Linked DNA regions of Homo sapiens: region 1 is linked to region 2. The links come from fine-mapping of genetic effects on gene expression. A gene starts in region 2. The other region holds a variant in brackets. All regions are shown on one strand. Distances are from middle to middle.

Region 1 (11,947 bases), 27 kb after region 2:
TCCTGCCTATCAATGTGGGGATGCTGAATGGAGGCCAACGCATTGACTATGTGCTACAGGAGAAGCCTATTGAAAGTTTTAATGAGTATTTATTTGCTTTACAAAGCCATCTATGCTACTGGTAAATGTTGTTTATTTTTGTCTGTTTTGTTTGTTTACCTGTTTCATAGATATTTGATAGATGTAGAAAAAGGAGGATAGGCCAGGTGCATTGGCTCAGGCTTATAATCTCAGCACTTTGGGAGGCCAAGGTGGGAGGATTGCTTGAGTTCAGGAGTTTGAGACCGGCCTGGGAAACATAGCAAGACCTCATCTCTACAAAAACTAAATTAGCTGGGCGTGGTGGTATGCGCTTATAGTCCCAGCTACTTGGGAGGCTGAGGCAGGAGAGTCACTTGAGCCCAGGAGTTTGAGACCACAGTGAGCCATGATCACACCACTGCACTCTAGCCTGGGTGACAGAGCAAGACCCTGTCTCAAAAAAAAAAAAAGACCTGTGTACCTTTGGAATTAAAATGACTTCTCATTTAGACAGCACAAGCACAATCATGTCATTTCAAGAATCTGGTTTAAACACACTGTTGTTTTATTTTGCAGCTGGGTAGAACATGGTTGAGGCTAATGATGCCAACAACCATAAGTTCAATTATCTTGGTGTTAAAAATGTGTCTTTTGGCCATTTAGGTGCACATGAATGAACTGGAACAAATATTACTGTTGCTGGAAGTCTTATAGCAAACCCATTTGAAAGCATTTATGGTAGCTGTGACAGAATTAATTATTATTATTTTATCATTATTTGAGACAGGGTCTTGCTGTGTCACCCAGGCTGGAGTGCAGTGGCATGCTCATGGTTCACTGCAGCCTTGACCTCCTGGACTCAAGTGATCCTCCCCCCTCAGTCTCCCTAATAAGTAGGATGACCGTTGTGCACCACCATGCCCAGCTAATTTTTGTACAGACAGGGTTTCGCCATGTTGCCCAGGCTGGTCTAAACTTCAAGCAATCAATCCGCCTCCACCTCTGCCTCCCAAAGTGCTGGAATTACAGGCATGAGCCACCACGCCTGGGCAGAATTATTATTAAATATAATTGGTTACCTGATGGATTGTAGAATGGATTAATGATGCTTATTGAAATTCAGGCCGGGTATGGTGGCTCATGCTTATAATCCCAGCACTTTGGGAGGCCGAGGAAGGAGGATTGCTTGAGGCCAGGAGTTGAAGGCTGCAGTGAGCCATGATGGTGCCACCGCACCCTAGCCTGAGTGACAGAGCGAGACCATGTCTGAAAAAAAATAGTATAAAATAATACTAATTAATCCCTGAAGAAGTTGACATAAAAATAAAGTAAGGGAAATAAGATGGGTCAGAGATAAGTGTTTTAAAAATGAAAGCTCAGACCAGCATGGCCAACATGGCGAAATCCTGTCTCTACCAAAAATACAATTAGCCAGGTGTGGTGGTGCATGCCTGTAGTCCCAGCTACTAGGGAGGCTGAGACAGGAGAATTGCCTGAACCTGGGAGGCAGAGGTTGCAGTGAGCGAGATCACGGCCACCGCAGTCCAGCCTGGGTGACAGAGCGAGACTCCATCTCAAAAAAAAAAAAAAAAAAAGCAAGCTCAAAGGTCCTAAGAATAATTTTTCCCTTGAATTCTGATGAGGAATTATCATCTGATGCAATCACTATCGTTTGTATATAATATATACAGTAGAGGCCAAAAGCAATCTTGTAAGGGGCTAAAATAATGCTAAGAATGATCTCTGGTGATCTGGCTTGATAGAAAAGAAAGCAGAGTTCTTTTAATATTTCTGTGTGGGCAGTACATTCATATGGTTTGAAATTCAAAGAAAGAAAAATAATGAAAAGCCTCTTTTTTATTTTGTTTCTTGCAATCAGTTTCTTCCCCATATACAACTAATGTAAAATGTCTTCCAGCCATCTATTTTATGCCTCCATAATAAATATATGTATGTGAATATATTCTTTCCCTTATTTTAAAAACATAAATAGTAAATTAAAGGCAATGTTCTGTGCCTTGTTTTTTCTACTAGTATATCTTGGCATTTTTTAACCTATTATATGTTGTTTCCTCATTTTTTTTTTTAGCTGCATAGTCTTCCGTTATGTAAATACACCATAATTTATTTAAGCCGTCCTCTACTCATGGACTTTCAGGTTTCCTTTTCTTTTGCACACACCTTGTTCATGTCATTTCACCTACTCATGAGTATATCTGTAATGTAAAATACTTCGAATTGAAATCAATGGCATAAAGGGTATATACATTTGTAAAATTTGATAAATATTGACAAATAAGAGGTTGTACCTTTTTATACTCCCAGCAATAATGTACGAAAGTGTGTGTTTCTCCACAGCTTTTCCAACAGTTTTAATATTTTTAAATCTTTGCCAATTTGTTGGGTGAAAATGTACAATATACTGTACATATTAAAAGAATACACATTTGATGAGTTTTGACATGTATACACCTGTGAAGCCATCACTACAATCAACTTAACATATTCATCACTCTCAAAAGTTTCCTTGTGCCTTTTGTAATCCCTCCCTTCTTTTCTCTTCCCCACTCCTCCTAATTTCCAGGGAGCCACTGCTCTGTTCTGCCACTGTAGATTAGTTTGCTTATGACTTGTATTTGGAATCCTACAGTATATACTTTTGTTGTTTGGCGTTTAGCTTATTTATTTATTTATTTATTTTTTTGAGATAGTCTTGTTCTGTCATCCAGGCTGGAGTGCAGTGACACAATCATGGCTCACTGTTGCCTAGATCTCTGGGCTCAAGGGATCCTCTTAGGCTCAAGGGATCCTCCCATCTCAGCCTCCCAAGAAGCTGGGACTGCAGGCATGTGCCACTGGGCCTAATTTTTTTTAAATTTATTTTCGTAGAGATGGGGTCTCACTATGTTGCCCCTGCTGGTGTCAAACTCCCGGCCTCAAGCAGTCCTCTTGCTTTGGCCCCCCAAGCTGTTGGTATTATAGACATGATCAATGTTGTGTATATCAATAGCATATCCTTTTTATTGCTGAGTAGTATTCCATTATATGGATATATCAGTTTGTCCATTTACCTGTTGATGGATATTTTGATAGTTTCCAGTTTTTGGCTATTAACAAAGCTGCTAGGAACATTCATGTATAAGACTTTACATGGACATATTCTTGGGTAAATAGGAATGGAATGGGTGGATACTATATGGAAGTGTATTTTTAAAAGAAACTGCCAAACTGTTTTGCCACCAGCAGTTTACATCTCCATCAGCAGTGTTTGAGAGTTTCAGTTGCTCCACATCAACTTTTTTTTATTTTTTATTTTTATTTTTGTGAGGCAGTCTCACTCTATCACCCAGGCTGGAGTGCAGTGGTGCGATTATAGCTCACTGCAGCCTTGACCTTGGACTCAAGCCATCCTCCCATCTCAGCCTCCTGAGCAGCTGGGAGTAGCTAGGACCACAGGTGTGTAACACTATGCCCAGCTAATTTTTCAAATTTTTTTGTGGAAATGGGGTTTTGCCATGTTGCCCAGGCTGGTCTTGAACTCCTGGGCTCCAGTGATCCTCCCACTTGGCTTCCCAAAGTGCTGGGATTACAGGTGTAAGCCACCATATCTGGCCAACAAGTTTTTTTTTTTTTTTTTTTTTTTTTTTTGAGAAGGAGTCTCACTCTGTCACCCAGGCTGGAGTGCTGTGGCACGATCTTGGCTCACTGCAACCTCTGCCTCCCAGGTTCAAGCAATTCTTGTACCTCAGCTTCCTGAGTAGCTGGGATTACAGGTGTGCGCTACCATGCCTAGCTAATTTTTGTATTGTTAGTAGAGATGGGGTTTCACCATGTTGGCCAGGCTGGTCTCAAACTTCTGACCTCAGGTGATCCACCTGCCCCTGCCTCCCAAAGTGCTGGGATTACAGGCATGAGCCACTGCGCCTGCTCAAAATTTTTATTTTTATGTAATCAAATGTGTTGTCATTTGCTTTTTGGTTTCTGGAATTTGTGTCATACTCAGAAAGATCTTCCTTACTTTCCAAAAAAATTCTTACCACAGTATTTTTTTTTTTTTTTTTTTTGAGATGGAATCTCACCCTGTTGCCCAGGCCAGAGTGCAATGGTGTGATCTCGGCTCACTGCAACCTCTGCCTGCCAGGTTCAAGTGATTCTCCTGCCTCAGCCTCCCAAGTAGCCAGCATTACAGGTGTGCACCACCATACCTGGCTAATTTTGTCTTTTTAGTAGAGACAGGGTTTCACCATGTTGGTCAGGCTGGTCTCAAACTCCTGACCTCAAGTGATCCCACCTCAGCCTCCCAAAGTGCTGGGATTACAGGCGTGAGCCACTGCACCCAGCCAACACAGTATATTGTTATATATATAATTTTTTTTAGAAACAGGATCTTGCATGCAGTGGCTTCTCACAGGCATGATCTTAGTGCACTAGACCCTTGAATTCCTGGGCTCAAGCAATCCTCTTGCCTTGGCCTCCTGAGTAGTTGGGACTGCAGGTGTGCAACACCATGCCTGGCTATTCTAATATTTTATATCTAATTTTTACATATAAATCTTTGATTCAGATTCAGGTCCTTTTTTCCCCACGTCTCAACACTATTAATAGATTTGAGATTCTAAATTAAATTAATTAAATTCTTTTTTTTTTTTTTGAGACAGAGTCTTGCTGTGTTGCCCAGGCTGAAGTGCAGTAGTGCAGTAGTTGGCTCACTGCAACCTACGCCATCTGGGTTCAAATGATTTTCCTGCCTCAGCTTCTTGAGTAGCCGGGACTATAGGCATGTGCCACCATGCCCAGCTAATTTTTGTATTTTTAGTAGAGATGGGGTTTCACTATGTTGGCCAGGCTGGTCTCGAACGCCTGACCTCAGGTGATCTGCCTGCCTCGACCTCCCAGTGTTAGGATTATAGGTGTGAGCCACCGTGCCTGGCCACTTAATTAAATTCCTATACATAAATGGGACTATTTCTCAACTTCTTACTTGTTGATTTGCTTATTTATGTACCATTTTAATATCTGATAGAGCTAATTCCCACTTGTTGATACAGGAATTTCTTAAGCTGGGGTCTGTGTATATGAGTTTGTGGGAGATGAGGGAAGTCTGTGAATCCAATGAAATACACATTTATAATTGTGGTTGCAATGTGATCCTTTCTGGGGAAGAATCCGTAATTTCATTAGATTCTCAAAAGGATGCATGACTCAATAAATGTTGAACCACAGATCTAGAAGAATAATAGAGGCTTATATCCTTAAGGCAGTCCCTCATGAGTGTTAATCTTTTTAAATCAAATTTTGTTATGAAGTGTGGATATAAGTAATTGCTTGTGCATACGTAGAATAATATCTGGAAAACGCATGAGAAATTGATAACATTGGTTGTCAGAAGATGGGAACTGGTGGTGGTTGAGGAACAAAGGTGGGAGGGAGACTTCGTTACTTTCTTATATTGTTGGAATTTGGAACCTTATGATTGTATTACCTTTTCCAAAAAGTGCATAATATTTTAAAAATTAAGGTGACCAACTGGATAACTCTTCAATAGTGTCTCTAGAATGATCTCTGTGGAAAAGGAACAATTCTTGGTTATTTCTTACTGGCTTTTTTTTTTTTTGAAATGGAGTCTCACTCTGTCGCCCAGGCTGAAGTGCAGTGACACTCTGCAACCTTCGGCTCACTGCAACCTTTGCCTCCTCGGTTCAAGCGATTCTCCTGCCTCAGCCTCCTGAGTAGCTGGGACTACAGTCGCATGCTGCCACGCCTGGCTAGTTTTTTTTTTTTTTTTTTAGACGGAGTCTCGCCTATCTGCCAGGCTGGAGTGCAGTGGTGCAATCTCGGCTCACTGCAACCTCCGCTTCCTGGGTTCAAGCAATTCTTCTGCCTCAGTCTCCCCAGTAACTGGGACTACAGGCGCATACCACCACACCCTGCTAATTTTTGTATTTTTAGTAGAGATGGGGTTTCACCATATTGGCCAGGCTGGTCTCAAACTCCTGACCTTGTGATCCACCCACCTTGGCCTCCCAAAGTGCTGGGACTACAGGCGTGAGCCACCGTGCCCAGCCCTAGTTTTTGTATTTTTAGTGGAGATGGGGTTTCACCATGTTGGCCAGGCTGGCTCAAATTCCAGACCTGTAGTGACTTGTCCACCTCAGCCTCCCAGAGTGTTAGGATTACAGGCATGAGCCACCGCACCTGGCCTCTCTTCCTAGCTTTTTTATATTACTAGACTTAATGCCAGAGTTCTTTGCCAGGTCACCTTCCAAACCACTGCCAATTACATTACTTCTGAATCTCATTTCTTTGCAGAAGTAAAAAATAAACTTGCAAGATGGTTGTATGGATTAAATGAGATAATATATGTAAAACATTTGGCACAAGTGTTAGTTCCTTTTCTCAACATAATTTTTTCTCTTTATAGGGAGTCTGAAGATACAGTATTGCTCGTCCTCAAAGAGATCTACCAAACCCAGGGTATCTTCCTTGATCAGCCTTTACAGTAAAAATGACCCATCTATGGCTGCTTAATGTAAGTTTTAAAATGTCATATATATAGTGTAATTCTTACATATTAACATGTTATAATGAACTATGGAGCCTCAAGCTCTTTTTAAATATACTAGCTGTTGCCTGTCACCAAGATCTAGGCTGCTATTCATTTTTAGAGGGACTGGTAGAAATTCATGGGGAAAAAAACACAGTAGCCCATTTAGAGGAAGATTAGTGTATGTCTGTTTTGCTAGAGATTTTGTCCAATGACACCTGTCATTTTTTAGGATCTAAACTCAGAGTTTTAATGGTTCTGTTATCTAAGAGTTACTGTGGCAACAGTTATGATTTTAATTACCAACCACCCATCCTGAGATTTAAATTACTCAGCCTTTTAGATGTGAAATTACAAAGTCTGTGTATTCGACTCTGGCATTCTCTGTGGTTGCCTTCCAGTTGTGACTGCAGCTCTTCTCCCACTTTCTTCCCTAGACGGACATTGAGGGATCCTTCCCCAGAAAATCCACCTGTTTGTTGCTGCAATTTTCCTCTCCTCAGCTGCGTCATTTCCTGCATGTTGCCTGCCACTTACTCACCACTGGGGTCTTTGGAAGATAATCTTCCTCTTTGGAAATGAATGGAAAAGCAAAAGGCCCTATTACTTTTAACCACTGGCTTCATATAAACACTTGCCATTTTTTTCTGCATAGCTGGGGGTGGTTTGTGTCTTTAATTCTTTGATGATAGTTTATAGTTGCCACACTTTATTGATTAGTACTTGACAGGGTGTAAAGCCTATTTTGGGTTTGATTTGTTTTGGGTGGGGTAGACATGTTTTTAAGGAACTTATTGCTTATCTTTAGAAAATGTTCTAGTTTGGAAACAGATTCTTGAGATTCAGAAGGCATTTTGGAGTACACTTATCT[CTTGT/C]TTGTGTTGAACTGAAGGCTAAGTCTCAGTGGACATGGAAAAGACTTTTGGGTGATTTATTTTTGAACCTGCATTTCTTTCTTATGTGTAGTGTATGAAGAAAGACTAGAATGTAGCTTTAAAAAAGTGTTGTTTACTCTCTTAGAACTGACAGACTTATTGCCAGAAATCACTGATGTTCATTGTTTTTGCAACTGTTTGAGCTGCTGTAAGAGTCTAAAGTTGACAAGTTAGTTCATGTTAGGTGCATCTTTATAAAGCAAAGATGTTGTATATCCTAGGCCTCCCTTTTATATTTGATAGAAGTTATTTGCTAATAGCTTCTATTCTTACGTTGAAAATAGTTGTAAAAGCTGATGAACCTGAAATTGTGTAGCCTCTACAGGCTGCTGAGGTTCTAAATAAAACCTTTTAGTGGTGCCTTTATGGTGAAACAGAATTTGTCACCTGCCATTTCTACTTGAGCTAAGGTAGTATTGTGTATCCTCTTTCCTTCTTAGGTATCCATAATCCACAAAGCATATTTAAAAGGCTCTTGGCACGGGCAGCATTGGTTGAGCAGGTAGGTTTGGCTAGGGGGAAATGTTTAACTTGTTCTGAAAGAAAAACTTATGTCTGTAGGGTCCAAGAAACAGCTATTCCAGAGTCAGTGTCAGCTGAGTCTGGAACATATGAAGTGAGGTTTACTTCTAAGAACACAAGTGACTGCACACTAATTTTGTCAAGGCATCTTTTCACTACTTTGCTGTAGATTTTTCTTCTTCATTGGTCAGTTTGTCATTGTCTTTGTAGTTCTCTTTATGATAATCCTTTATACTTGCTCTCAGATTCCACAGGCCTCTGTTTATAGAGTGGCAAAGGCAGGCGAGCTGTGGTTTATTGTTTATAAATTTTTTTATAAATGTTATGGTATTCAAAGCCACTGACATTTAATATTTACTGAAGCCATTCCTTAGACAGCAGTGGTCTTTATCCCTTTCTGGAAAGAAAAGGAAAATGAAGGGTAATTACTGTCACCATGGAGATTGTAGAGGTAAGGTTGGGGTATAGGTCAGGCCTGGCCTTTCTTTGTCATCTGCTTATAGTCTAGTGCTAAGTATGCCACTAAGTTTCAGATATATGGAATACTTTATTTTTTTAAAGGTATATAAACTCTGAGTTATTGAGAATTAAGTATTCACTGTATATTAAGGGGAAGCTTTTGCCAAGTTGTGGTCTTCAAATTTATGTTTACTCTTCCTATTGGCAGAATAGGTGCTATTTAAGAGTAAACCAAAGGATAAGCAGAGGGAGTCCCTATAACCAAAGATGGACAGCATAGCCCTGGATAGCCAGATAAACCACTCTTTGTATTAAGAAATGTTTCTTTCCTAGTGGTGAGGGGTGGGTAACTGTGAAAGAGCTTTATATCTTGTCTATTCATGGTATTATAGCTGTATATTCCCAGGATGATAAGCTTGATTGAAATCCTGTATTTAGTCATATATTATTTGCGCTGCTTCATTTGTATCATGTGCAATCTCTAGACCAACCCTATTTTTAAACTCTGGTACAGCATCATTTTGTACATATTCCCAGCTGCAGAACTAGTATCACTTATCTCAGCAAAAGAGATTGTTTGCATGGAAAGATTAATAGCACTGATTAGATTTCTAATATTTTGCATTTTTGAAATGTTTGTTTTCTACGTGATTATATTTAAAACTTTAGTAAATACTAACATGAAACCATATTGACTAGTGGCCTACTTTTACCTGGACTCACCCGTCTCAAAGTCAAGAAAATCAGTACAGTCACGATTTTCTCTGTCTTTATGTATTACTAAAACAAAAAAATAGGTTTTGGGCAAAGAACTAATATGTAAGTTCTTTCCTGTTGACTGGTATTTTAATTGTCATAGGCAGAATTTAAGTTCAGAATTTAAAGCATGGCAATTATAAGAGACTTTCCTTTGGTATTTATAAATATTAGCCAGTACTATAGATAACAGCAGTTGAATCACTTAGGGCGGATGGGGAATTCAATGTTTTGCTTTACTAAAGTTCCAGCCCCTTAATGTACTTTAAATATTTAAAAAAGCACACATTTACCATTTTATTTGAATATCAGGTTTACTGAAGGAAAAAGATACATTGAAAATATAGGAACATACACATAAAAGACAATGTCATATTTAAAGTATAATCACAATAAAGAGAAAGGGAGCTGTAGGTCCTATGGCATCCATTCTGATGACATCCCATAATTGTTCCTTATATTCCATTGTGAAGAAGGGGCAGAAAAAGATTCATCTGTCCTTCAGATGACGATACCTGTCATTTTTCTTTTCTACCTTAGTCACTTGGCAGTGTTGGTGCATTTGAGCAGATCTTCAGTCATGAATGGAAGGAAAGAAGCTCACAAGTACAGTTATGGTCAAATGAGGTAGAAACAGTCATCTGTTAGTAGTGCTGAAACCACACTCCTGACCATTTTCTTCTTTATTATTGTTTTCACTTAGTAATTCAACAAATTGTTTATGCCCACGGTGTTCAAAATGCACAGCAGTACCAGATGGCTGGACTCAGATAAGATGCACACAAAAGTGATAAATTACCCTAGATTCGACATTTTCCTATTTAAGGCTTGATGGAATTGTCATCAGAGAAGGTAAACAGAATCAAAGTAATTTAGTTGGCCATGCCCTAGATTTTAAGATTTTGAGCTATATGAAATGGAAATTAAGTTTTGATAATGAACTCTAGCTTCTGAGACAAGGTGGGGCTATGTAAAGGCTTCTTTGTGACAAGATCCTTCTAAGAATGGCATTTAAATTAAATGTAAAAACACTGTAGATCTTCAGATATTAATCTGATAGACCAGATTCATAAGGTGTTGGACACCTTTGAAAGATCCTTTTACTAGAACATGTGGCATACAGTAGTGGAAAAGAACCGTAACTCCTCAAGATAGATGAGCAGGGGCAAAAGTGTGTAATCATTTGGAGGCAGAATACAGTGTGGCTTATGTCCTCACTTGCACCTTGGAAGGGGAAAAAAAGGCTAGAATTTCTTGTCTTGTGCATGGTCCGGTTAGGAGGGCTAGTTCACCTGTTCTCTATTGAGATAGATTCAATTTTTTTTTTTTTTGAGATGGGGTCTCACTCTGTTGCCTAGGCTGGAGTGCAGTGGTGCGATCTCGGCTCACTGGAACCTCCAGCTCCCAGGTTCAAGCAATTCTCCTACCTCAGCCTCCCAGGTAGCTGGGATTACGGCACACAACTCCTGGCTAATTTTTGTATTTTTAGTAGAGACAGGGTTCACCATGTTGGCCAGGCTGGTCCTGACCTCAGGTGATCCACCCTCCTCAGCCTCCCAAAGTGTTGGGATTACAGGCATGAGCCACCACGCCCGGCCAGATTCAATTTTTAAATATCAAAACAATAAGAATCCCCAGGCTTCTGTGCAGTGGAAAGTACAAGTTTGTCTTGAAATGGTTTATGGCATTCTGCATCAGTCAGAGGAGGATAATACTGCCGATAGCAGACATAGGCAAATGTCATTCCAATCATGGATCCAACTAGTACATCTGAAGAGAGTGGAAACAAGGTCTTCTCTTAATATTAGGCTCCTAAATCCTATTACATACACATAGCATAGAGGACCTGGCCCTCCAGGATACTCTACTGTGGGGCTAAAATAACCTCAATTCCAGACTTATGATTTCTAAATAAAATCTTTTTATTCTCAATTTTATCATAGTTACAGTATTATCATTGTCAGGTTGCTTTCTGAACACCAAATCAAAACACATCTTAAGTAAGTATAATAAGCTTTGTTCAGAGTGTACTAAATTAGAATTTTTCTAACTCAGAAGAGTAACAAAGGTCCACTTATTGCTATTCATCTGCCCATTTTCACCATTTAAAGGGTCCTAGAGGAAGGAATAAAGTATTTTAAGAGTTGCTTCTCGCCGGGCACGGTGACTCACGCCTGTAATCCCAGCACTTTGGGAGGACCAGGCAGATGGATCCCGAGGTCAGGAGATTGAGACCAGCCTGACCAACAAGTGAAACCCTGTCTCTACTAAAAATACAAAAATTAGCCGGGCGTGGTGGCATGTGCCTGTAATCCCAGATACTCAGGAGGCTGAGGCAGGAGACTTGCTTGAACCCAGGAGGTGGAGGTTGCAGTGAGCCGAGATGGTGCCACTGCACTCCAGCCTGGGCGCAGAGCTAGACTCTGTCTCAAAAAAAAAAAAAAAAAAAAGAGTTGCTTCTCTTTGCAAAAAACTAGTTTATTTAAAAATTTAAAATAGGGTTCCTGAGGACCTGTGGGCAATACCTCCAGCGTTTTTTTTGGAATTGTGTCAGGTTCAAGCCATTCTCCTGCCTCAGCCTCCCAAGTAGCTGGGATTAAAGGCGTGTGCCACCATGCCCAGCTGATTTTGTATTTTTAGTAGAGATAGCGTTTCACTGTTGGTCAGGCTGGTCTTCAACTCCTGACCTCAGGTGATCCACCTACCTCAC
Region 2 (12,161 bases):
AGACCTTTAGGCCAGCAGAGCATAAAATCTTGGGAATAGGCAGCAAAAATTTTGCTAGTGGGTCACTAGGGATAATGGTGAGTGCTGCCACTCCCATTTCTGCCCCTTGATTCCTGGATGTATGAATCCTGGCTATGGGAGAAACAGTTCCATATATTGGATGCCGATTCAGAGCACCTATAGGTTGTCCCAGTCCGGCTAAGTATTACCACCTAGCTGGTGCTGTAACTGTGATTTCAAAAGACCATTTCACCACTCTGTCAAGCCAGCTGCTTCAGGATGGTGGGCAACATGGTAAGACCAGTGAATTCCATGAGCATGAGCCCATTTTCACACTTTCTTGGCTGTGAAGTGAGTCAGAGCACTGCTGGGTCAGAGCACTGCTGTATGGAACACTATGACAGTGGATAAGGCTTTCTGTAAATCTAGGGATGATGGTTTTGGCTGAAGCATTATGGGCAGGGAATGCAAATCCTATCCAGTGTCTATTCTAGTAAGAGCAAAACATTGCCCCTTCCCTGATGGAAGCCATCCAGTGTAATCAGCCTGCCACCAGGTGGCTGGCTGATCACCCCAGGTAATGGTGCCACAATCAGGGGCTCAGTGCTGGTCTCTATTGCTGTCAGATTGAGCACTCAGAGGTAGCCACAGCCAGGTCAGCCTTGGTGAGTGGGAGTCCATGTTGCTGAGCCATGCAAAAACATTTATGCCTGCTACCATGGCCAATTTCTTCATGAGCAATGACAGGGGTGACTGGGCAATGACAGGGGTGGCAGGGGCCAGAGGCTGACTAGTATCCACAGAATAGGTCATCCTATCTACTTGGTTATTAAAGTTCTCTTCTGCTGAGGTCACCCTTTGGTGAGCATTCACATGGGACACAAATTTATCTTCACACCTTCTGCCCCCTCAAAGAGGTTTGTTCACCACCTCACATGCCAATCTCTTCTGGAAACACCCTCACAGACACATCACAGACACACCCAGAAGTAATGTTTTACCAGTTCTCTAGGTATTCCTTAATCTAGTCAAGCTGACACCTAAAATTAACCATCACAATATGGACCCCTCTGATTAAGTGTTCTAGTCAAATCAGAATCTTGTTGGATTCTGAAAATCTACGTTTTAATCTATGTTTCTGAATCTACATTTCAGATCATGTTGGATCTGAAAATCTACATTTTAAGAACCTACTTAGGCCTGGGTGTGGTGGCTCATGCCTGTAATCCCAGCACTTTGGGAGGCCAAAGTGGGAGGATCGCTTGAGCCCAGGAGTTTGAGACCAGCCTGGGCAACATAGTAAGACCCTGTCTCTACAAATAAAAAAATTCGCAGGATGTGGTGGTGCACACCTGTGATCTCAGCTACTTGGAAGGCTGAGGTAGGAGGATCATCTGAGCCTGGGAGGTCGAAGCTGCAGTGAGTGGTGAAAGTTTGAAAATCACTGTCAGAGCCCAAAGCCCTGGTCTTGTTATTGTATAGTCAGCGTCAGAGACAACTGTGAAGTTTTCTTCACTCTGGATGCCTAGGTGTTAATCTGGGATTGAGGACTTCTGCCTCTAAAAACAATGATTCCAGCTTTGGATATAAGATCCAGTTGTTTATGACCCCTACATTCTTGGTTTTGCTCTTTAAACAACTTACTGGCCATTAGCGTTATCTTCTGCACTAGGAGCATGGGGTCAGCAAGCTACTACCTGAGATCAAATTAAACCCCTGCCTGCACTTTACTGGGACACAGCCACACTCATCAGTTTACATCTCCTCTCTGGTTGCTTTAGTGCTGCAACAGGAGAAGTGATTAGTTGTGACAGAGCCTTATGGCCTACAGAACCTAAAGAATTTATCTGGCCCTTTACAGAAAAAAAGTTCGCTGCCTCTTGCACTAGAACATTGAAAGGGAAAAAGTAGAGATTGTTTTACATTTTACCTGTTAAGGCTTGTCTGGTAAAAGGCTGATATACAACCACAAACAACAGCCAGTAACATTAAGTGTGTTTTTATTATTTATTATTTAAGACAGAGTCTCGCTCTGTCGCCCAGGCTGCAGTGCAGTGGCAAGATCTCAGCCACTGCAAGCTCCGCCTCCCGGGTTCACACCATTCTCCTGCCTCAGCCTCTTGAGTAGCTGGGACTACAGGAGCCCACCACCAAGCCTGGCTAATTTTTTGTATTTTTAGCAGAAACAGGGTTTCACCGTGTTAGCCAGGATGGTCTCGATCTCCTGACTTCGTGATCCACCCGCCTCAGCCTCCCAAAGTTTTTACAGGCATGAGCCACCGCGCCCGGCCATGGGTTTTTATTTTTAAGGGGCACAGTAAGATATTCTATTTGTCTGAAACTACCTATGTATGCAGACTTTTGGGGAACCTAAAATTTATACTGTGTGGATCCCAAATACTTGCATCCAGATCATGTGTGGTAACTATTTAAAATGCAGATTCCTGCTGGGCACTTTAGGAGGCCGAAGTGGGAGGATCACTTGAGCCTAGAGTTCAAGACCAGACTGGGCAATGTAGTGAGACCCTGTCTCTAAGAAAAATTTAAAAATTAACCAGATATAGTGATTACGGCTCACTGCAACCTCCCCTTCCTGGGCTCAAGCCATTCTCCCGCCTCAGCCATCTGAGTAGTTGGGACTATAGGTCTGTGCCACCATGCTCAGCTAATTTTTTTTTTTTTTTTTAGAGGTGGGTTTCGTCATGTTGCTCAGGATGGTCTCAAACTTCTGGACTCATGCAATCCGCCAGCCTCAGCCTCCCAAAGTGCTTGATTACAGCATGAGTCACTGTGGCCCATAAAACCATTTTGTTGCATACCAAAAGTAAGATGGTGGTGTCTTGAAGAAAAAGAACTTGAGTGACTATTTGAATTGGAAGCTGAACTAGATGCTCTTTTTTCATGCAACATCATTTTTATTTGAAAGTATAAGGGACAAACTATGGCTATTTGTATGTAAGTATTTAGCAGAAATTTATTTGAAAACAAAGGAGACTTGTCACTTCAAGGAAGACAATTTATCATTTGTTGCCAATGATAAAATTTGACCTTTTAAGAAAAAAGCAGAATATTGGAAAACTTGTACCTGCTACTCTGAGCTTGACAGCTTCCCAATATTAAAGACTTTTCTGATGAGATCGGTAATTTTTAAAAAATTGTATAATAAAATATATTAACATTTGGAAGATCTACATAGCTCAGTGAACTGATACTTTCCCAAATGAACAATACATGTCTTAAGTCACACATGGGTAAGAGATCCATTCAAAGTGCAAGATAGGCTGCTTTGCCTATGGAGTAGCCATTCTTTTATTCCTTTACTTTCTTAATAAACTTGCTTTCACTTTACTCAAAACAACAAAAATAAAACAAAGTGCAAGACAGAAAAATGGATTTTAATAGTATCAGAATATGTGAAGTTTACTGATATATTTTCAAACTGCACATTGCAATCCACTTTTTTTTTGAGACAGCCCTCCAAATTTGAGAACAGCTGGTATGGAGGCTACAACAGGATTTGAAGATAGAAAACCTAAATTCAAGTTCCAGTTCTGTCACTTACCTGACTGATTTTAGACAAGTTACTTAGGTGCAGGCTCTGAAGTCACACTGTGTGGGTTCGTGATTTTAGCTCCACCCCTTGCTAAATCGGCCTGCCTGGGCCTCCCAAAGTGCTGAGATTAACAGGCGTGAGCCGCTGTGCCCGGCCTTGCAGAAGCTATTCTAAGTGTAATAAATTTGAAGGGAAGGTGTTAACTTGGGGATATTTGTGTGTGGCTGTTAATTTGCAAAGAGAATAAATGTGTTATAAAAAATTGTTTTCTTTTTCTGTTTGTGAAGAAATAACAAAACTGAAATAGGCCGGGCAAGGTGGCTCACGCCTGTAATCCCAGCACTTTGGGAGGCCGAGGCGGGTGGATCACGAGGTCAAGAGATCGAGACCATCCTGGCCAACATGGTGAAACCCCGTCTCTAGTAAAAATACAAAAATTAGCTGGGCGCGGTGGCGCATGCCTATAATCCCAGCTATTCCGGAGGCTGAGGCAGGAGAATCGCTTGAATCTGGGAGGCGGAGGTTGCAGTGAGCCGAGATCGTGCTACTGCACTCCAGCCGGGTGACATAGTGAGACTCCGTCTCAAAAACAAAAAACAAAAAACAAAAACACAAAAACTGAAAAAAAATGCCCTATAATCTAGTTAGAATATAGGAAAATATCTTTTTAAATACCAAAAGGTATTAAAATGAAATACTAAGGAGAGTCGGGCAGGGCCTGTACTCGACCTCATGACTGCGGGAAATTTCTCTTTTTTTCTTTTTTTGAGATGGAGTCTCCCTCTGTTGCCCAGGCTGGAGTGCAGTGGCTGCGATCTTGGCTCACTGCAACCTCCGCCTCCCGGGTTCAAGTGATCCTCCCACCTCAGCCTCCCAAGCAGCTGGAATTACAGGCGCGAGCCACCACCCCCGGCTAATTTTTATATTTTTAGTAGAGATGCCGTTTCACCATGTTGGCCAGGCTGGTCTTGAACTCCTGGCCTCCCAAAGTGTTGGGATTACAAGCGTGAGCCACTGCGTCCAGCCCCTTTCAACTTTTCACCTCAGTTATGTCTTCCTGTTTGGACAGCAGTATCTCATCTCCAACCTCCCTGGCATCTTTTAAATCCTGTTAAGGTTGCCTCTACAAAACAAAACAAAAAAAAATTATTAATTTTATTGTTTGTTTAGAGACTAGTGTCGCAGTGTTACCCAGGCTGGAGTGCACTGGCGCCATCTGGGCTCATGCAGCTGGCACCAATGGGCTGGGGCGCTCCTTCAGCCTCAGCCTCCTGAGTAGCTCAGACCCAGGCGCTGACACCACGCCCGACACCTCTACATTTTTTAGGGATACCTTTTTGGTAACCTCTAAATCATAATAAATGCACGGAGGACGGGCCAAAGCCTTTTTGCCTGGCAAATGCTAGTGACACCCGTTCTCAGCACCCAGAAGCAGAGGCCAGGAGCGGGGCGGCTGTGGCTGCGCCCTCCGCCCTACTCCGCTAATCCCGGGGCCGCGCAGTCCCTGCGTCCGGTGATCACCGCGCTGCTCCTGGCGCACTAGTAGGGTCTGTAGCGTATCCCGAGGATCATTCCGACTTTCCCGCCCCGTACGTGAGGGGCCGCCTTGAAGCCTCTTCCGCCACGGACACTCGAAACTGATCTTGAAGCCCCTGCCGTCACGGATACTAGAAACTGATCTCGAAGCCCCTTCCGCCACGGACACTCGAAACTCTCCCCCACTGTTAGACCTCAGCAGCCAGCAGCCCGCCGCCCGGCGCTGCAGCTCCCTGCCCGCAGGAGCCACGTCTCGCGCGACTCCCCCCACCTCTCGCGACACTTGCCGCCCGTGCCCTGCGGCCCTGCACGCCCCACCCGCGGTCGCGCGCCGCGCTCCCCGCCGCCTCACCTTTTCGCCTGGCATCCGGGCCCGCTACTCGCCCACTGGGAGCGCCGTGGCGCCTGGTGTTCGGCGCGAGCCCGGCGGGGCTGCAGGTTCCGCCCTGCTCCGCCGCGCCCCGCCCGGGCTGGGGTAAAGGCCGCGGCCGGGCCATGCAGTGTCCTCCTCAGGGAGGGCAGGAGAGCCTGAGGAGTGGCGGGGCCGCCAGGTGAGACCGCGTCGGGCGGGCGGCTGGACCGAGGGAGGCCAGGCTGGGTGCAGGTGGGCGGCGCAGCGCTGCGGGGCCGGGATGCGGGGCGGGGGAACCTCGGCTCCCGGGAAGCCCCGAGCCTGGGGGAACCCTGGGCACCCTGTGAACCCTGTGGTCTGCACTGGCTGCCCTGCTGCTGTCGCGGGGCTGCGGGCGGACGACCTGAGCCCGAGCTCCGAGGGCCCGGAGCGGGGCGCCAGGGCCTAGGGTCGCGGGGGCCAGGGGCGCGCCAGGGTGGCTGAGGTAAGTCTGTGTGGGGAAAAGGACAATGGAGCCGAAAGCCGGCGTCTGCCGTCCCGCCGGGCCCGCGCGAGATGCCCTCCTGCCCCCCGCCCTACGAGGCAGCTTAGAAGTGTCCTTCTGGTGCCTGCGGCGCTGATCGTTGCCGAGTGGAAGGAGTGTTGGAGAGGTAGAAACAGCTGGTCAGAGCCGCCTCTGCGGGAGGAGGCTTTTGAGGTCGCTTGTTAGCTTTCATCTGAGATTCTGGCTATGGGAGTGGGCGTGCGTGTGCGCACCGTGGCCCCAGGCGAGGTTTCGTCTTTTCCCAATTTGTACCACCACCCATTAAGCGACTTCAAGGATCCATCAAAAATGATTGGTTCCTAAGCGAACAGTTTTATTTTTTGTATTTTAAGATTCCATTAGTTGTGTAATGGTAGGGGCCTGGAGCCCAAAACCTTGGCGTTACTAGGACAGGGCATGACCCAGCTGACTTGGAGTAAATTTTCTGCCTTTAACTACATTTAGATTGGAAATTAGGGTAAAATGTTTTTGTTGCAATCTAGTTTCGAGCATGTGGTCCTGTGATTCTGGGTTTGTTTTATAACTTATGGACTGAGTAAAATTACCCAGTTTACTGAGAGAATTGAGAACTCTGTGCAATGGTTGATCTAATAGAAGCATTTTATTTAAAGCTTCCACCCATCCAGTTGCTAATTTATGTTATTTCTCTTTTAAATTATGTAGATTTTGTTGTTGTTGTTGTTGCAGAAATGGCTCCGTAAAATGATTAGTTTTGTGCGTGTGTGTGTGCGAACAGTTACACAGTTAAGTTCGTTTTCCTGATAGTTTTCTTTTGTCTTTAGAGAGCGAAATGTCATCAGTGCAGTCACAACAGGAGCAGTTGTCCCAGTCAGATCCATCTCCGTCACCAAACTCATGTAGTTCCTTTGAGCTAATAGACATGGATGCTGGCAGCTTGTATGAACCAGTTTCTCCCCATTGGTTTTATTGTAAGATAATAGATTCTAAGGAGACATGGATTCCTTTCAACTCTGAGGATTCACAGCAGCTGGAAGAGGCATATAGCTCTGGTAGGTGAAAATTATGACTTGGAATAGACAAAGACTCTCCCCTCTTCAAACTATAATATAATGGTCCTTATAGTGAGTGCTATGAAAACCAAATTTTAGATTTTTCCAGTTACATAATTTCTTACAGCATTTTATATAGAACTTCTGCACTAATACCTAGCCAATCAATAATATTCAAGAATTTGGTCTGTATTTTGAAAACAGTATCTATTATTATTTCTGCATAGTTACCCAATAATTTTTTTTTCCTTAGAGTTGGGGGCCTAATTATATTGTCTAGGCTGGTCTTGAACTCCTAGGTTCAAGCAATCTTTCTGACTGGGCCTCCCAAAGTGCTGGGATTACAGGCGTGTTACACCCTGTGCCCAGCCCCCCAGTAATATCTTTAATGTTCTAGCTTATGTTTTACTTTGTTTTATAAAGAATGTGTAAGGCTGGGCACAGTGGCTCACACCTGTAATCCCAGCACTTTGGGAGGCCAAGGCGAGCAGATCACTTGAGGTCAGAGTTTGAGATTAGCCTGGCCAGCAATGGTGAAACCCCTTCTCTACTAAAAATACAAAAATTAGCTGGGCGGCGGGGTTTGTGCCTGTAGTCTCAGCTACCTGGGAGGCTGAGGCAGGAGAATTGCTCAAACCCGGGAGGCGGAGGTTACAGTGAGCCAAGATTGTGCCACTGGACTCCAGCCTGGGTGATAGAGTGAGACTTGTCTCAAAAAAAAAAAAAGAAAAGAAAAGAAAAAAGTATGTATAGAGTGGGGTGCAGAAGAATGAACTCTCTAACTTGTCACTTGTCTTTTCTTCTTTTATAAAACAAGAATGATTCTATTTATACTGAATCATCATGATGGTTATTAATTTACCTTATGGTTCCTCAAGCAAATTCAGAAAAATCACATTATATAATTTTTTTAAGGGGCACTGCTATCTTTCCCCAGAAAAAGAACAAAACTGGGTAGTATTTTTTTCATATTTCATTAAAATCAGGAATGGTTTTGACGGTTTGTAAAGTAGGTAGTGAAAAAGATATGAATTAAATTCCATTTTGTTTGGTGTTTAGTCAAGTAGGAACTTTTCATTCATGTGTTTCATAACATTATTTAGAGTATAACTGAGAATTGTATGTTGGGAGATTTATTTTGAAATATGTACTTCTTTTCCCCTTTTCAATCCTTGAAAGGAAAAGGTTGTAATGGGAGAGTTGTTCCTACTGATGGGGGCAGATATGATGTTCATTTGGGGGAGAGGATGCGGTATGCTGTATACTGGGATGAACTGGCATCGGAAGTGAGACGATGTACGTGGTTTTACAAGGGGGACAAAGACAATAAGTATGTTCCCTACTCGGAGAGCTTCAGCCAAGTTTTAGAGGTATTCTTTTGACTCTTTTTTTACTTATTCTTTCTTTCTCTTATTTAATAATCTTTTCTTTCCTTTGTAATTTATTTTGTGAAATTTCCAGAAAGACTTTGGTTCTGTCTGCATCACATTATAAAACATAATAAAGCATTTCTATTTACAAGCAAGTTTCAGGATAAAGTAGTCTTATTTTCAGATTTTTTTTTTTTTTTTGAGACGGAGTCTCGCTCTGTTGCCCAGGCTGGAGTGCAGTGGTGCGATCTTGGCTCACTGCAACCTCCACCTCCCCGGTTCAAGTGATTCTCATGCCTCAGCCTCCCAAGTAGCTGGGATTACAGGTGGCCGCCACCACACCTGGCTAATTTTTTTTAAGGGGCACTGCTATCTTTCCTCAGAAAAAGAACAAAACTGTTTGGGTAGTATTTTTTTTCATGTTTCATTAAAATCAGGAATGGTTTGACGGTTTGTAAAGTAGGTAGTGAAAAAGATATGAATTAGATTCCATTTTGTTTGGTGTTTAGCCAAGTAGGAACTGTTCATTCATGTGTTTCATAACATTATTTAGAATATAACTCAGAATTGTATGTTGGGAGATTTATTTTGAAATATGTACTTCTTTTCCCCTTTTCAATCCTTGAAAGGAAAATATTGTAATGGGAGAGTTGTTCCTACTGATTTTTATTAGAGATGGGGTTTCACCATGTTGGCTAGGCTTGTCTCGAACTCCTGACCTCAAATGATCTGCTGGCCTCGGCCTCCCAAAGTGCTGGGATTACAGGTGTGAGCTACTGTGCTTGGCCTTTTTCAGATTTTAAAATACGATGGAAATGGTTGTGGTGTTTTAAGGTGTAAAAAAAGAAAAAAATACTCCGGGCCTGGTGGCTCACGCCTGTAATCCCAGCAGTTTGGGGGGCTGAGGTGGGCGGATCACCTGAGGTTGGGAGTTTGAGACCAGCCTGACCAACATGGAGAAACCTCGTCTCTACTAAAAATACAAAATTAGCTGGGCACGGTGGTGCACGCCTGTAATCCCAGCTACTTGGGAGGCTGAGGCAAGAGAATTGCTTGAACCCGGGAGGTGGAGGTTGTGGTGAGTGGAGATCGCACCATTGAACTACAGCCTGGGCAACGAGCAAAACTCCATCTCAAAAAAAAAAAAAAAAACTGGTGGGCACAGTGGCTCTCACCTGTAATCCCAGCACATTGTGAGGCCAAGGCAGGAGGATGACTTGAGCCCAGGAATTTGAGAACAGCCTGGGCAACAAAGCAAGACCCCACCACTACAAAAAAAAGTACACGCGCACACACACACACACACACACACACACAAATACAAATGCAAACTGTATTATGCTATGGTCACAGGATTGATCTTTTTTAGCTTTTATTTTTCTTGCTCTGAAAACTGAAATTTTTCTTTAAATTGGAGTAGAGCGTTAGTATTTTTTGTTGTTGTTGAAACAAGAGTGTCGTTCTGTTTCCCAGGCTGGAGTGCAGTGGCACGATCTTGGCTCATTGCAAGCTCTGCCTCCTGGGTTCTTGCCATTCTCCTGTCTCAGCCTCCCAAGTAGCTGGGACTACAGGCGCCCGCCACCACGCCCAGCTAATTTTTTGTATTTTTAGTAGAGACGGGGTTTCACCGTGTTAGCCAGGATGGTCTCAAGCTCCTGACCTCGTGATCCGCCCGCCTCGGCCTCCCAAAGTGCTGGGATTACAGGCGTGAGCCACCACGCCCAGCCTTTTTCTTGTTTTTGGTTTTTTTTTTTTGCTTTTTTTGTTTTTGTTTTTGTTTTTGTTTTTGAGACAGAGTCTCACTCTGTTGCCCAGGCTGGAGTCCAGTGGTGCGATCTCGGCTCACTGCAACCTCTGCATCCTGGGTTCAAGCACTTTTCCTGCCTCACCCTCCTAAGTAGCTGGGATTACAAGCGTGCCTCACCACACTGGCTAATTTTTTTTTTTTGAGACGGAGTTCCACTCTTGTTTCCCAGGCTGTAGTGTAGTGGCGCGATCTCAGCTCACCGCAACCTCTGCCTCCTGGGTTCAAGCGATTCTCCTGCCTCAGCCTCCCGAGTAGCTGGGATTACAGGCATGTGCCACAATGCCTGGCTAATTTTGTATTTGTAGTAGAGATGGGATGGGATTTCTTCATGTTGGTCAGGCTGGTCTCGAACTCCCAACCTCAGGTGATCCACCCGCCTTGGCCTTCCAAAGTGCTGGGATTATAGGCGTGAGCCACCGCGCCCGGCTCACACTGGCTAATTTTTGTATTTTTAGTAAAAATGGGGTTTTGCCGTGTTGGCCAGGCTGGTCTCGAATGCCAGACCTCAGGTGATCTTCCTGCCTTGGCCTCCCAAAGTATTGTGATTACAGGCATGAGCCACCACGCCTGGTCTAGAACATTAATATTAATATATTAAAATGTGAACACTAATTATCTAGCGTAGATGATGGAATTAGGAGTATTTTTCCCCCTTTGTCCTGGTGCTACTATCAGTTGTAATTTCAAAATAATTTAAAAATAGGCTGGGTGCTGTGGCTCATGCTTGTAATCCCAGCACTTTGGGAGGCCGAGGCAGGCAGATCACCTGAGGTCAGGAGTTTGAGACCAGCCTAGCCATTATGGCCAAACCCCGTATCTACTAAAACTACAAAAGTTAGCCGAATGTGGTGGCGGGTGCCTGTAATCCCAGCTACTTGGGAGACTGAGGCAAGAGAACTGCTTGAACCTGGGGGGCGGAGGTTGCAGTGAGCCGAGATTGTGCCACTGCAACCCAGCCTGGGCGACAGAGTAAGACAAACAAAACAAAACAAACAACAACAACAACAAAAAGATTTAAAAATAAATTTGATAAATTGGAGTAGGATATTCTTATTGAAACTCATTAATACATAGTATTCTTGTTAATAGGTTCAGTTTAATAGGAAAGCTACTAGAGAACTCTAATGAAATGTGTTTTCTTTTAAGGAAACTTACATGCTTGCTGTAACTTTGGATGAATGGAAAAAGAAACTGGAATCTCCCAACAGAGAAATTATTATTTTACACAATCCAAAGGTAAAACAAAGCATTTCTCTTGTCGGGATAAAAAGTTAATTGCGCTATTAGGGAGAACTCAATTGGTTTCTTTTGCTAAGCACTCTGTGTAGGATAACCTTTGTCAAATTTTATATTGAATTCACAGTTATGAAACTTAAAAACTTGTAGCCACTACTGTTATTTACCCAACTCAGCTTATACAAAATAATTTTCTTATGGAAAATTATGCCACTGTAGAATAAGAAAATCACTGACATATTATGTGAGCATGTCTTCCATGTAGAAAGGGACTATTGACAGATCTGTTAGCCTAATATATTTTCACGGTTCTCATTTCAAGCCATACGAGTTGTATATCAAAACTCCAGTTCAGATTTTACTGTGTGGTTTGAAAGACATGATTCTACACTTAAAACTGCATTGTATAGAGATGATTGTATTGCAGAATATTTTTATTGCTCTGATCTGTTCTGTTTAAGCTTATGGTGCATTACCAGCCAGTTGCAGGGTCTGATGATTGGGGTTCAACACCCACGGAGCAGGGTCGACCAAGAACTGTGAAGAGAGGAGTTGAGAACATCTCTGTTGACATTCATTGTGGTAATGTTAATCGTTTATTTTTTCTTACCTTTGGATGTATTTGTTTACTCCTTAAATTGTGACCTTTTTCTGTGGATTTAGATTACCTCAAGGCTTAAAAATCATCTTTAATCATATGGGTTTATTCCAAGTTGAGATTAGCATCACTTCGTCTACTAAGAATCTTAATAG

Evidence for each region. PIP is the estimated chance that this variant, and not a neighbour inherited with it, causes the effect. A credible set is the group of variants that fine-mapping cannot tell apart.
Region 1: its variant is the best candidate, but not a certain one, in a credible set for the expression of DDHD2 in whole blood (TOPMed, PIP 0.60).

The regions. Positions count from the first base shown.
Region 1 is chr8:38,253,598-38,265,544 of GRCh38, forward strand. DDHD2 (DDHD domain containing 2) reads left to right here. Exons shown (of 18, transcript NM_015214.3): 16 at 1-121; 17 at 6,443-6,550; 18 at 7,003-9,239. The coding sequence ends at 6,524. It overlaps PLPP5 (phospholipid phosphatase 5), which reads right to left. Exons shown (of 7, transcript NM_001102559.2): 7 at 9,533-11,007. The coding sequence ends at 10,847. Among named protein-coding and RNA genes, the nearest start is that of PLPP5, 9.7 kb to the right of the region's middle. The variant CTTGT/C (reference allele first, on the strand shown) is at 7,437.
Region 2 is chr8:38,226,220-38,238,380 of GRCh38, forward strand. DDHD2 (DDHD domain containing 2) reads left to right here and starts at 5,366. Exons shown (of 18, transcript NM_015214.3): 1 at 5,366-5,640; 2 at 6,768-6,995; 3 at 8,175-8,365; 4 at 11,319-11,408; 5 at 11,870-11,990. The coding sequence starts at 6,776. RefSeq lists silencers at 4,719-4,768, 5,339-6,008 and an enhancer at 5,668-6,167.